2 linked regions of the Homo sapiens genome follow. The protein of the gene in region 2 interacts with the protein of the main gene of each other region in a biochemical or structural test. Each region holds a gene or a part of one and is shown on either strand. Other genes may lie near its edges.

Evidence for each region. Proteins that work in one complex are often made in the same cells at the same time.
Region 1: of the proteins of DOT1L (region 2) and UBE3C, one has a biochemical effect on the other in vitro, tested with the Homo sapiens proteins (one study listed by BioGRID).

What each region holds. Positions count from the first base shown.
Region 1 is NC_000007.14:157,260,908-157,267,933, forward strand, and holds part of UBE3C (ubiquitin-protein ligase E3C), read left to right. Parts: intron 1-6,677; coding exon 6,678-6,848; 3' UTR 6,849-7,026. UniProt on the Homo sapiens protein: E3 ubiquitin-protein ligase that specifically catalyzes 'Lys-29'- and 'Lys-48'-linked polyubiquitin chains.
Region 2 is NC_000019.10:2,215,928-2,222,953, forward strand, and holds part of DOT1L (histone-lysine N-methyltransferase, H3 lysine-79 specific), read left to right. Parts: intron 1-353; coding exon 354-838; intron 839-1,027; coding exon 1,028-1,163; intron 1,164-1,844; coding exon 1,845-1,991; intron 1,992-4,180; coding exon 4,181-4,295; intron 4,296-6,048; coding exon 6,049-6,632; intron 6,633-7,026. UniProt on the Homo sapiens protein: Histone methyltransferase. Methylates 'Lys-79' of histone H3. Nucleosomes are preferred as substrate compared to free histones. Binds to DNA.

The DNA.
Region 1 (7,026 bases), on a different chromosome or scaffold from region 2:
CCTCCGTGATGCCTCCGGGTTCGTGCATGGCCACTTGTGCTGCGTGAGCGTCGTAGGTTTAGGGGAACAGAAGTAGAGGGATTTACATGAGCTTTTAAAATCCCAAATAGACTGGCCAGGTGCGGTGGCTCACACCTGTAATCCCAGCACTTTGGGAGGCCAAGGCGGGTGGATCCCCTGAGGCCAGGAGTTCAAGACGAACCTGACCAACATGATGAAACCCCGCCTCTACTAAATACAAAAAAAAAATCAGCCGGGCATGGTGGTGCATGCCTGTAGTCCCAGCTACTTGGGAGGCTGAGGCAGGAGAATGGCTTGAACCCGGAAGGTGGAGGTTGCAGTGAACCAAGATTGCACCATTGCACTCCAGCCTGGGCAACAAGAGCAAAACTCTGTCTGAAAAAAAAAAAAAAAAAAAAAAAAAAAAAAAAATCCCAAATAGACTAAAAGGGAAAATCCTACCCCAGTCAAGACCCCGCACAATCATAATTGAGTTATACCGTGGAAAACACTTTGAGCATCCATGAGACGGTCTTACTGTTTTTTTTATTTTTCTCAATGTTCTAACATATGTGAAATTTAATTGATTTTTCCATGATAAGTGTTTTTGAAGTTGTTATATGTTAGACATCCAGTTTGGAAAAATCATCTTAATATTTAGGCTTTCCGGTTAGCTTAGTATGCCTGGATTTGCCAGGGCTGCAGAATTAATGTAGACTTAAAGGAAGAGAATGTCTTTCAGTTGAAGTACTATAAATAGCAAAGGCAGGCAGGCATAATTTTAAAGTTATGAAACTCCTTAGTGCCAGATTATTGGAGAAGAATAACATCTGCTAAAGCTAATTAAAGTTTAATATGTTTAATAAATGTGATTGTTACAGACAAAAAATCATTAAAGTGCTGTAGAAAATTGTTAAGTTACCATCAGGCCACATAATAAATTAATGATTTTTCTCACTCTGAATTAATGCAAATTCCCGTTGTACTGTATTTAATTATGCACAAAATGGTGCCCTTGACTCAGATTTCAGTGAAGAACTTCATTTTTTTACTTTTAAGTCTCCAAGTAGGAAATTCAATTAGCGTTATGAAAGAAACACTAAAATGTGGCATTTAATTGCAAAATATATTTTAAGCTTTTCATTTATCCAGTGACTTTGCCAGCAGTCACTGACCCCTTCATTCAGAGATCCTTTTCTGTTTCAAAAATGCAATGCTTCCTTTTTAGTATATTCAAGCATTTGTGAAAATTATTGCCCTCATGTACTCAGAATGCTGAATAATAAGTGTAATAAATGTTATTTCTGGTTCTCCTTTGGTTCTCATTCTAACATTTTTATGAGAGATTTAAAGGAGCAAATAAACTATAATTAGAAAAAAAAAGACAATGGATTTTAGCACATATTATATGCCACATATATATTTTTTAATGAAGTTTACATTTAACAGTAAAGAGACCTACAAAGATCAGTAATAAGAATCATGTAAGTCTCTTCATAGGCTTTTTTTTTTTTTTTTTTTTTTTTTTTGAGATAGAGTTTCGCTCCTGTTGCCCAGGCTGGAGTACAATGGCCCATCTCAGCTCGCTGCAACCTCTGCCTCCTGGGTTCAAGTGATTCTCCTGCCGCAGCCTCCCGAGTAGGTGGGATTACAGGCACCTACCACCACCCCCAGCTAATTTTTTTGCATTTTTAGTAGAGGCAGGATTTCACCATGTTGGCCAGGCTGGTCTCGAACTCCTGACCTCCGGTGATCCACCCACCTCAGCCTCCCAAAGTGCTGGGATTACAGGCATGAGCCACCGCGCCCATCCTCTTCATAGCATTTTGTGGGCTGTGCTCTTACTAGTTTTACCCTTAACATAAATTATATGCTAAACTCAACATATAATTGAAACAAAATCCAACTGAAATGTGGGTGTGGCCAGTTGGGTGCCTGTTGTGCTTTGTGACAGCTTCAGTGCTTCCAAAGGTTCCTGCAGAATGGGACATTGCTCTAGTTTGATTCACATTTGACTACAATGGTTAGAAGGTAATTACCTTTTCTATTTTTTAAATTTTTTTGAACATAAACTCAAGATTGTATTGTCTTCATAATAAAACAAAAGATGACACTTAGAATTGGATGTCTTGGCCCTTCCTCCTCTTCTGTCCTCCCAGTTCAGAATGCTCACATCTCTTTATATCCAGCATCCTCTTACATCTGCACCTATGCTCAACGCACTCAAGCCTCAGCACAAGCTTCTTCGTAGTTCTAGCCTTTTCCCGGAAAATCAGCTTAGTCTGCCCACCGTAGCCGCTATGCTTCGTGTCCTAACACCACCTTCCCCGGGCACCTGTCCTAACGCCACCTTCCCAGGCACCTGTCGTAACGCCACCTTCCCCGGGCGCCTGTCCTAACGCCACCTTCCCGGGCATACAGAGAATCCGTGCCCTTTTGTGCCGTGTCGCTTTGTGGGCTTGCCACACTTACAGAAAGTCGAACGGGGGCCGGGTGTGGTGGCTCACGCACTTTGGGAGGCTGAGGCGGGCGGATCACCTGAGTTCAGGAGTTCTCGACCAGCCTGGCCAACATGGCGAAACCCCATCTCTACTAAAAATACAAAAATTAGCTAGGTGTGATGATGGGCACATATAGTCCCAGCTACTCGGGAGGTTGAGGCAAGAGAATTGCTTGAACCTGGGAGGCAGAGGTTGCAGTGAGCCGAGATTGTGCCATTGTACACCAGCCTTGTTGAGAGAGCAAGACGCCAACTCAAAAAAAAAAAAAAAAGTCTAGCAAGTATTAGGAACATTCACTTTGTGGGAGCGCTGTTGGCACCGAAAGCACTTTTTTTATATTGGATTTTTTTTTTTTTTTTTTACCTTTCAGTAAAAGTAATGTTTTCATTATAGAAAATTGGAAATTGTGATCAAGTATAAGAAACCTATATTTCCTCCCATTCTAACCATTATTTTTTTATGTTTCCTTCCTTTAATTAGTATGTGTTTTATCTACCTACATGAGTGTGTGTTAATGTAGATATGCATAATTTTTTCTGTTTTTGGTAGAGGTAGGGTCTTGCTCTGTTGCCCAGGCTGTCAGAAACTCCTGGCCTTGAGTGATCTCCCACACCAGCCTCCCAAAGCACTGGTACTACAGGTGTGAGCCAACATGCTCGGCCTGTTACACACACACACACCTGGTATTACAGGTGTGAGCCAACATGCTCAGCCTGTTACGTGCACACACACACACCTGGTATTACAGGTGTGAGCCAACATGTTCGGCCTGTTAAGCACAGAGACACACACCTGGTATTACAGGGGTGCGCCAACATGCTCGGCCTGTTACACACACACACACACACACCTGGTACTACAGGTGTAAGCCAACATGCTTGGCCTGTTACACACACACACACACACACACCTGGTATTACAGGTGTGAGCCAACATGCTCGGCCTGTTACACACACACACCTGGTACTACAGGTGTGAGTCAACATGCTCGGCCTGTTACACACACACACACACACCTGGTACTACAGGTGTGAGCCAACATGCTCGGCCTGTTACACACACACACACACCTGGTACTACAGGTGTGCGCCAACATGCTCGGCCTGTTACACACACACACACACACCTGGTATTACAGGTGTGAGCCAACATGCTCAGCCTGTTACACACACACAAACATATATATTTTTAAGACAGAGTTTCACTCTTATTGCCCAGGCTGGAGTGCAATGCGTGATCTCGTCTCACTGCAGCCTGCAACCTCTGCCTCCTGCCTCAGCCTCCCGAGTAATTGGAATTATTACAGGCATGCACCACTACAGCCGGCTAATTTTTTATTTTTAGTAGAGATGGGGTTTCGCCATGTTGGTCAGGCTGGTCTCAGAAATCCTGACCTCAGGTGATCCACCCGTTGTGGCCTCCCAAAATGCTGGGATTACAGTCATGAGCCACTGCTCCTGGTCACGTAATTTTTAAATATAATTTTAGCTGTATCTTGTGTTCAGTTTTCTAGGCTACCTTTTTCACTCAACATTACATCAGGATCATTTTTCCTCATGTTATTCTTTGAGATATTTTTAATGGGCTTGTAGTGTCCCATCATGTGATTTACCAGTTTACTTTCTGTTTTTTAGTTGTTTACAGCTCTTCCTTCGTTGTGATGCTGTGAACCTCTTGTGCATAAATTATCATGTGCATCTCTAATTATTTCTTAGAGTACAGTCCCAGGAGTTGTGAATGTGGGTGAAGCCCCTGCTCCTGCTGCCAGGCCCACCTCTCAGAGAGTTTCGTGTACACGTGTGCAGGGAAGGGCTGACCTAGCTAGGTCTCTGAAACCCGTGCCAGATACTAAATCTGCACAGGCTGCGACAGTGAGCAGACTGAGGGCGATCTGTGCCTTATTGTCTTCCTGTTGGAAGAGAACACATAAATCACGTATCTCAAATGTGAGGCAAATAGCTAATGGTGTTTGTGTATACGAGGAAGGTGGAGTCACCGGTTCTTCGTGGCCATCAGAGGACCGACACGCCCATAGGTCTCATGCATTAAGTCTGCGTTGAGCAATCCCTAACACGGTTTTTGCCTACAGATACATTTGCACAACTGTGAAAACCAGGTACGTATTCATTGCATCATTTTTTGTAAAAAGCTGAGAGAAGTGCCCAGCAACACGTCGTGCCGCGCGTGTGCATGGAACACCATATAGCCTCACCATTAATAGGCAAGATGAGCGAGACCCATTATCAGATGAGAAAAGCACGGCACGGAATACTGTGTCCAATGTGCTCACCGTCTCAATTTTAAACCTAAAGGAGGGAGAACATTTTCTCATGCGTGCATTTCATCTCTGGGAGCACTTAAGACGCTGAAGCGTTGGTTGCCAGTGGGAATGGGAACTGGGTATCTGTGATACAGGGATGAGAATTTTCACACTGTACCTTTAAATACCAGAACGTCATGAACACATCTGAAAAACAATATTCAAATTTCCCTGATCATCTTTCTTTTTTGTTAACAATTATTTAAATTCTGGCACAAGCAAGCCACTTTTCATCATGCATTTGGTCTATAGATGTTCTACCTCCCTCAATTTCGTCTTGTAATTTAATGAATAGGGGAACTGGGGCCGGGCACGGTGGCTCACGCCTGTAATCCCAGCACTTTGGGAGGCTGAGGCGGGTGGATCACGAGGTCAGGAGATCGAGATCATCCTGGCTAACATGGTGAAACCCCGTCTCTACTAAAAATACAAAAAATTAGCCGGGCGTGGTGGCGGGAGCCTGTAGTCCAAGCTATGCGGGAGGCTGAGGCAGGAGAATGGCGTGAACCCGGGAGGCGGATGTTGCAGTAAGCCGAGATTGCACCACTGCACTCCAGCCTGGGTGACAGAGCAAGACTCCGTCTCAAAAAAATAAATAAATAAAAATAATAGGGTAACTGGGTTGCTTCTTTGTATCTCTTGAAAACTGATAGAGGTCTCATCAGATTCTAAATTTGAATTTTTCTTTTTTTGGCAATAACATCACATAGGTAATGTCGTATGCTTCCCATTCCCTTAATCATCGTGGAGATCCACTTCTCGTGAGTCATCTCCCCACAATGCTGGGATCGATCTCTGCGTCAGAATTCCTCTTGATTTTAGTGGTCACTTATCACTGCCTAGATCCATTGTTTAATGTGCTTCTAAAACAGCCGTGTTCTAATTACATAATTGTATAATTTATTAGCTGGAATTTTCTATTTAAAAACAGCTTTGTTTCTTCTCACCAATGATTTGGTTAACCCGAGTAATAGCTTGTACAGGAAAGATAGAATAAATCTTGATCCTTTTTAAAAAATTTTTATAGACAGGGTCTCACTGTGTGTTGCCCAGGCTGGAGTGCAGTGGTGTGATCATACCTCACTAACCTCGACCTCCTGGGCTCAAGACATCTTTTCACCTCAGCCTCCCAAGTAGCTGGGAGTATAGGGGCAGACCACCACACCTGGCTAATTGTTTTGATTTTTATTTTTAGTGGAAATGAGGTCTCGTTATGTTGCCCAGGCTGGTCTCGAACTCCTAAGCTCAAGCCATCCCCCAGCTAGGCCTCCCAAAGTGCTGGGACTACAGGTGTGAGCTATGCGCCTGGCCTGGAATGTTATTTATCCCTTTTTATGCCTGAAGCACAGTGCATAATCTTTTATGTAAGTTAGAACTAAGCCATCAATGTAATTTTTTAAAAAAGCAAATGTGGGCCAGGCACGGTGGCTCACGCCTGTAATCCCAGCACTTTGGGAGGCAGAGGTGGGCAGATCACAAAGTCAGGAGTTCAAGACCATCCTGGCCAACGTGGTGAAACCCCTTATCTAGGAAAAATCCAAAAATTAGCCAGGCATGGTGGCAGGCACCTGTAATCCCAGCTACTTGGGAGACTGAGGCAGGAGAATCGCTTGAACCTGGGAGGCAGAGGTTGCAGTGAGCTGAGATGGCGCCATTGCCCTCCAGCCTGGGCGACAGAGCTAGACTCCATCTCAAAGAAAACAAACAACAACAACAAAGCAAATGTGGTTTCGGGAAAATGTGACTGCAATGGTAACTTTACTGATTGGAGCAGGCACATTTTGTGTACTTTGTATTAAAACTCATGTAATGCCATGCTTGTTACAGTGACATCTTGCACACATGCTGTTTTTCAGGAGTTGTATCCCGCATTTTGTATTCACAACGGAGGCTCCGACCTTGAGCGGCTCCCCACAGCCAGCACCTGCATGAACCTGCTGAAGCTCCCCGAGTTCTATGACGAGACACTTTTGCGAAGTAAACTTCTCTATGCGATTGAATGTGCCGCTGGCTTTGAGCTGAGCTGAAGCTGATGCTGGGGTCAGACCCCTACAGAGAACCAGTGCTTCCTTCGTCAGCAGCGCCTCCCCAGACCCACGAGGATACTCACACTGCACGCCTGAGGCTCTCCTAAGCTCCTTCTTTCATTCTGCCATTCCTCCCTCCCTTCCTTTTTTAAATGATTTTTATTACGGTGTGGTCACT
Region 2 (7,026 bases):
GAAGCTGCCACGCTCGAGTGGCGTGTCCCTCCACAGGTTTTACACTTAGTGAAACTGGATGTTTTACACTTAGAGTCTATTTTGAGAGACGAGAGCTCTTTGTATCTTCCTGTTGCTCTTTTTGAAGAAGGTGCTTCCATGTCAGCAAAAACCATCCTCGGCCCTCCACATGACTTTATTTGACGCCCCCAGCTTCCCGACCCCGCCTCTATGTGGTCGGCAGCTTTGGTTTTTCCATCCCACACAAGCAGCGGGGGTCCTGGCCACCCCTCCGGGTGTCCATCTGTGGCAGTCTTGGTTCCCTGGAGTGGTCCCCCGGTGGGGCGGGCCTGACACCATCTCTCCTCCTGCAGATCAGCATTGTGGAGCTAGAGAAGAGCCAGCGGCAGCAGGAGCTCCTGCAGCTCAAGTCCTGTGTGCCGCCTGACGACGCCCTGTCCCTGCACCTGCGTGGGAAGGGCGCCCTGGGCCGCGAGCTGGAGCCTGACGCCAGCCGGCTGCACCTGGAGCTGGACTGCACCAAGTTCTCGCTGCCTCACTTGAGCAGCATGAGCCCGGAGCTCTCCATGAACGGCCAGGCTGCTGGCTATGAGCTCTGCGGTGTGCTGAGCCGGCCTTCGTCGAAGCAGAACACGCCCCAGTACCTGGCCTCACCCCTGGACCAGGAGGTGGTGCCCTGTACCCCTAGCCACGTCGGCCGGCCGCGCCTGGAGAAGCTGTCTGGCCTAGCCGCACCCGACTACACTAGGCTGTCCCCGGCCAAGATTGTGCTGAGGCGGCACCTGAGCCAGGACCACACGGTGCCCGGCAGGCCGGCTGCCAGTGAGCTGCATTCGAGGTGAGTGCCCTGGTGGGGCTGGGGGTCTGCAGCTGGTACCTGCCGACTCTGCCTGGTGTGCTCAGGCTGTCGGGTTCTCAGCAGGAGTGTGTTTGTTGAGGAGACTGAGGTGGGGAGGTGCTGGGCCAGGCCGCTGCCTCTGAGTGCCAGCCCACGGCCCTCGAGAGTGACTGCAGCTTCTCATTCCAGAGCTGAGCACACCAAGGAGAACGGCCTTCCCTACCAGAGCCCCAGCGTGCCTGGCAGCATGAAGCTGAGCCCTCAGGACCCGCGGCCCCTGTCCCCTGGGGCCTTGCAGCTTGCTGGAGAGAAGAGCAGTGAGAAGGTGCGGGCCGCGACCCCTGCCCCGGGCTCAGGGAGGTGCTCAGCAGAGGCGGCCTGAGCGAGTTGCTAGCAGGAGGGCTTGTCCTAGTTGACCTTGGGGCACGGTGAGGTACTGGGGCTGACCTGGAGTAGGATGTTGTGGCAGAGTTGGGGGCAACCAGTAAGGACAGGTCACAGGTGACGTTGGGCAGGTGCCATGGAGGACATGGGGTTTGTCAGGGTGTCCCTGATGCCTCTTAGTTCTCAGTGACGGACGGCAAGTGCTGGTAGAGACACAGAGCCCAGTTTGGGAGGCCGCTGCCCATGAGGACTTCCCCGGGGGCACTGGCCTGTGTGCACAGGGATGGAGAGGGAAGGACGGTGACGTTGCATGGACTTGGCAGTGATGGATGTGGGCCCTGGGAGGCTTGGTGGCCCCACGGGTGACTGCCCACCGAGCCGGGCGGGCAGGCTGGAGGGGACAGATGGGCATTGCTTTCAGACACCAGGAGCGTGCCGTCCCTCTGGAGTGTCCCAAAGCCGGTGTCCAGGAGGGCCTGACTGCGTGGGGAAGGTTGCAGGGCCTTGGCAGCGTGGGGGCCGCCTTGAGAGAGCTGTAGCAGGCCCCCGTCCTGTGGCTGTGGTCCCTGTGTCCTGGAGGGGTTTGTTGACCCACGACTGGGGGTCGGGCCTTCGTCTGCAGGGCCTGAGAGAGCGCGCCTACGGCAGCAGCGGGGAGCTCATCACCAGCCTGCCCATCAGCATCCCGCTCAGCACCGTGCAGCCCAACAAGCTCCCGGTCAGCATTCCCCTGGCCAGCGTGGTGCTGCCCAGCCGCGCCGAGAGGGCGGTGAGTGGCTCCCAGGTGGCTGTCCCCAAGGGCCACGTTGAGGCAAAACAGTCTGGGGTGCTCGAGACCTGGCTCACTTTGCGAAGTCTCACGCTGTAAAATGTCGAGCGTGAGGCAATGCAGTCAAGGTGGGCTGTCCAAAGCCGGGGCGTGTCCGGTGACCTGGGCCGTTGTTTTCGCCAGTCTTTTTCTTTTGGGTGAAAGGTACGTGTGCAAGTGGAGAGGGCCTCACACCTTCTGGGTTGAGGAGGAGCTCAGAGGCCCACCCTGGCTCCCAGCCTCACTCCTCACGAGGCCACATTGGCTGCCGTGGCCCCTGTCCTCACAGCTGCCTCTGGGTTCTCCCACCCAGCGCTGTGCATGCAGAGAATCTCGTCTTGTGTAGCATGGGCGGGATTTTCTGGGCATTGAACTATTTTTTAAAAATTGTGCGCTTCAAGTATATGCTTCAGTGGTTTTTAGCATTTATTTTTTATTTTTTATTTTTATTTTTCAGACGGAGTCTCACTCTGTCGCCCAGGCTGGAGTGCAGTGGTGCGATCTCGGCTCACTGCAAGCTCCACCTCCCGGGTTCACGCCATTCTCCTGCCTCAGCCTCCCGAGTAGCTGGGACTACAGGCGCCCGCCACCACGCCTGGCTAATTTTTTGTATTTTTAGTAGAGATGGGGTTTCACCGTGTTAGCCAGGATGGTCTTGATCTCCTGACCTAGTGATCCGCCCGCCTGGGCCTCCCAAAGTGCTGGGATTACAGGCGTGAGCCACGACGTCTGGCCTCTTTCTTTTTTTTTATTTTTCGAGATGGAGACTCATTCTGTCCCCCAGGCTGGAGTGCAATTGTGTGATCTCGGCTCACTGCAATCTCTGCCTCCCAGGTTCATGCCATTCTCCTGCCTCAGCCTCCCGAGTAGCTGGGATTACAGGTGCCCACCACCACGCCCGGTTAATCCCCGCCCCCACCAGCTGAGACGGAGTCTTGCTCTGTTGCCCAGGCTGGAGGGCAGTGGCACGATCTTGTGATCTTTACTCACTGCAGCCTCCGCCTGCTGGGTTCAAGCAGTTCTCCTGCCTCAGCCTCCCGAGTAGCTGGGATTACAGGCATGCACCACTATGCCCAGCTGATTTTTGTATTTTTAGTAGAGACAGGGTTTCACCATCTTGGCCGAGCTGGTCTCAAACTCCTGACCTCAGGTGATCTGCCCACCTCAGCCTCCGAAATTGATGGGATGACAGGCATGAGCCACCGCACCCGGCCAATTTTTGTATTTTTAATAGAGGTGGAGGTTTTGCCCTGTTGGCCAGGGTGGTCTCGAACTCCTGGCCTCAGTCGACCCACCCGCCTCGGCCTCCCACAGTGCTGGGATTCCAAGTGTCAGCCCCCGTGCCCGGCCGGTTTTTTGTACTTTTATACACCTCTGTCTAATTCAGGACATTTTCTTCACCCGGGAAAAAGCGTTGCCCGCCTCAGCAGTCACTCCCTAGTCGTCCCCCAGCCCCCGGGCCCCCGAACACGCTCATGTCTGGGCCTGTCCCTTCTCTTGGCACGTGAGGGCATTCCCTGTGTGGATGGAGTGTGCCATCTTCATCCGTGCCCAGTTGATGGACCCCGGCTTGATTCCCTGTTTTGGCGATTGTGAATCGTTCTGCTGTGAGCGCTGGGGTCCAGGTTTCTGTGTGGATGTAGGTTTGCTCTTTGGCCCATGTGGGAGTGGAGCTACTGGGTTCTGCGGTCACTCTACTGACCTTTGTTGGACTTGGAGTGTGGTGTGGGGAAGTGCAGTGGGTGGTGGCCGGCAGGTGTGTTCTCGCAAGCGCCCTCCTCACCCCACCCGACTGCTGGCATTTGTGCTGCTTGGAGAACACAGCCGCTTCCCGGTGAGGGCGGGCTGTGGGTTGCTTGGGTTGTGCCCAGTACCCCCTCCCCACAGCTGGACCCCGGGACCCCCGCCTCCTGACCTCCCTGCCTCAGGCCCGCTGCCCATTCACACGCAGGCACCGCGCACTCTCGCTGCGCCACTCGCCTGGGGCCCCGCTCAAGTTCCCCCGCTGCCCTCTTCCCACGCGGTACTGGACGGTGACCCCGGCGGCCTCCCCCAGCCAGCTGCAGGCCTCAACACTCACTGTTTCCAGCTGGGTTCTGGGTCTCCTGGGGCACCTGCTGCCCCTGACACACAGGGTTTTCTCTCTGCAGAGGAGCACCCCCAGTCCCGTGCTGCAGCCCCGTGACCCCTCGTCCACACTTGAAAAGCAGATTGGTGCTAATGCCCACGGTGCTGGGAGCAGAAGCCTTGCCCTGGCCCCCGCAGGTAACGCCCCTCCTGTGCCCTACCCTCAGGACTCTGCTGCTGCTGCTGCTCTTCAGGCAGGAGGGCTGGGTTGCTGGGAGTGGAACAGGGCTTCCTGGGGTGATCATGGGGGCTGCTGCCCCAAACCGCCACGCCTCATTACTGACACCCTTTCCTGCATCCCACGAGCTGGGATGCGGATCGGGCTCAGCTGCAGCCATCTCGGCCTCATACCTGGGTCTCCCGACACTGACACCTCCTGCTTGGGTGTATTAATTCAGCCCGTGAGGTCGGCCCCAGTGCTCTCGGGGGCTCCTGTACTCACAGCTGGGAGGCCCCTGACTCAGGATCGGCTCCACACACAGCAGTGCCCAATGGCACACGACCGTGGGCCTCCGTGCTGGTAGCGGCATGGTTTCTGGTTCCTTGAGAAGGTGCCGCCTGAGCAGTCTCTGCTGTTAGCCCAGTTTCTGCAGAGAGCCAGAGAGGATGCCACTTTGGCTTTTGTTGACACTGCAGGCCTGTCTGTTGTGGAAGCCGCAGAGACAGCATGTCAGCGGGCATGGCTGTGTGCCAGCAAAACTGTACTTAAAACAGCAGAGGACATGAGACCCCCAGGCTGGTTTGCTGGCCCCAGGTTGAGATGCGGTATGATGCGGCAGCTACTTTTTTAGGAGTAAAAAGTAAAATGTGGCCGGGCGTGGTGGCTCATGCCTGTAATCCCAGCACCTTGGGATGCCGAGGTGGGCGGATCACCTGAGGACAGGAGTTTGAGACCAGCCTGGCCAACATGGTGAAACCACCGTCTGTACTAAAAATACAAAAATTAGCCGGATGTGGTGGCAGACGCCTGTAATCCCAGCCACTCGAGAGGCTGAGGCAGGAGAATCGTTTGATCCTGGGAGGTGGAGGTTGCAGTGAGCTGAGATCGCACCACTGCACTCCCGCCTGGGCAAAAAGAGTAAAACTCCATCTCAAAAACAAAACAACAACAAAACAAGTAAAATGTACATGGCCGCTATTGAGACAGGAGGGGCTCTAGGGAGGCTGGGCAGGCTTCACGGTTGGCCACGTGAGGGCCCTGGAGAGGCCACCGAAGCCCGGGCAGTTCTGCCCTCGCAGGGCTGGGTTGTGCCCTTGGGGTGAGGTCTGCTCTGCGAGAGGCAGTGACAGTTTCAGGAGATTTTCAACTGGGTGGCAAACAGCCAACTCCAGAAGCGCCTTGCTGCGCCCCTGCACTGAGGCCTCATTGGCAGAAGCAGGGAGGCCGCCCTTTGTCCCCGGGTGGTCATGGAAGTGCACCACTCATCGTGGGCTGGGAAGCATGGCTGCGGCCTTCAAGGCGGCCATAGCTTGGAGTATCCAAGCTGAGTTGTCTTCTGAGAACAGGAGGGAGGGAGGCCACGCAGCCATGGGCTTTCCTCATGGTGTCTCTGAGATCACGGGGCCAGAGGGCAACTTACTCAGAGGAAGCCTAGCTCAGCGGGGAGCCCGCACCAGGAGGCTTCTTGGGAGGCAGCGTCTCAGCCGGGACCTGCAGGGCACAGGCAGCCCAGATGGGCGGGAGGAGGCACAGGGTCAGCCCTGAGCCTTGAGCTTGCCCACAGAGCCTTCTGGTTCCACCCCAGAGGGGCCGTTTTCAGACTCCCAACCCCTTCCCCACTTCCCCGCCTCTCCTGGAGCCCACAGAGCTCCTAGGGGGTGGTGCTCCCACAGCAAGGCTTTCTCTTTGGCCATCCTGTGTCCCCTGAGACCCCCATGTCCTTCCCGGCAGGCTTCTCCTACGCTGGCTCGGTGGCCATCAGCGGGGCCTTGGCGGGCAGCCCGGCCTCTCTCACACCTGGAGCCGAGCCGGCCACCTTGGATGAGTCCTCCAGCTCTGGGAGCCTTTTTGCCACCGTGGGGTCCCGCAGCTCCACGCCACAGCACCCCCTGCTGCTGGCACAGCCCCGGAACTCGCTTCCTGCCTCTCCCGCCCACCAGCTCTCCTCCAGTCCCCGGCTTGGTGGGGCCGCCCAGGGCCCGTTGCCCGAGGCCAGCAAGGGAGACCTGCCCTCCGATTCCGGCTTCTCAGATCCTGAGAGTGAAGCCAAGAGGAGGATTGTGTTCACCATCACCACTGGTGCGGGCAGTGCCAAGCAGTCGCCCTCCAGCAAGCACAGCCCCCTGACCGCCAGCGCCCGTGGGGACTGTGTGCCGAGCCACGGGCAGGACAGTCGCAGGCGCGGCCGGCGGAAGCGAGCATCTGCGGGGACGCCCAGCTTGAGCGCAGGCGTGTCCCCCAAGCGCCGAGCCCTGCCGTCCGTCGCTGGCCTTTTCACACAGCCTTCGGGGTCTCCCCTCAACCTCAACTCCATGGTAAGGATGGGGACCGGCAGGGCTGGGGAGCGCGGCCTGTGAAAGAAAGACCAGAGGGAGACCGGGCGCGGTGGCTCACGCCTGTAATCCCAGCATTTTGGGAGGCCGAGGCGGGTGGATCACAAGATCAGGACATCAAGACCATCCTGGCTAACACGGTGAAACCCCGTCTCTACCAAAAATACAAAAGATTAGCCGGGCGTGGTGGCGGGTGCCTGGGAGGCTGAGGCAGGAGAATGATGTGAACCCGGGAGGCGGGGCTTGCAGTGAACTGAGATCGGCCACTGCCTGGGCCACAGAGCGAGACTCCCTCTCGGGGGGACAAAAAAAAACACAAAAAAAAACAGGTGGAGGCAGGGGGCCATGACTGAGCCCGGCCATCCTCCACCACGTG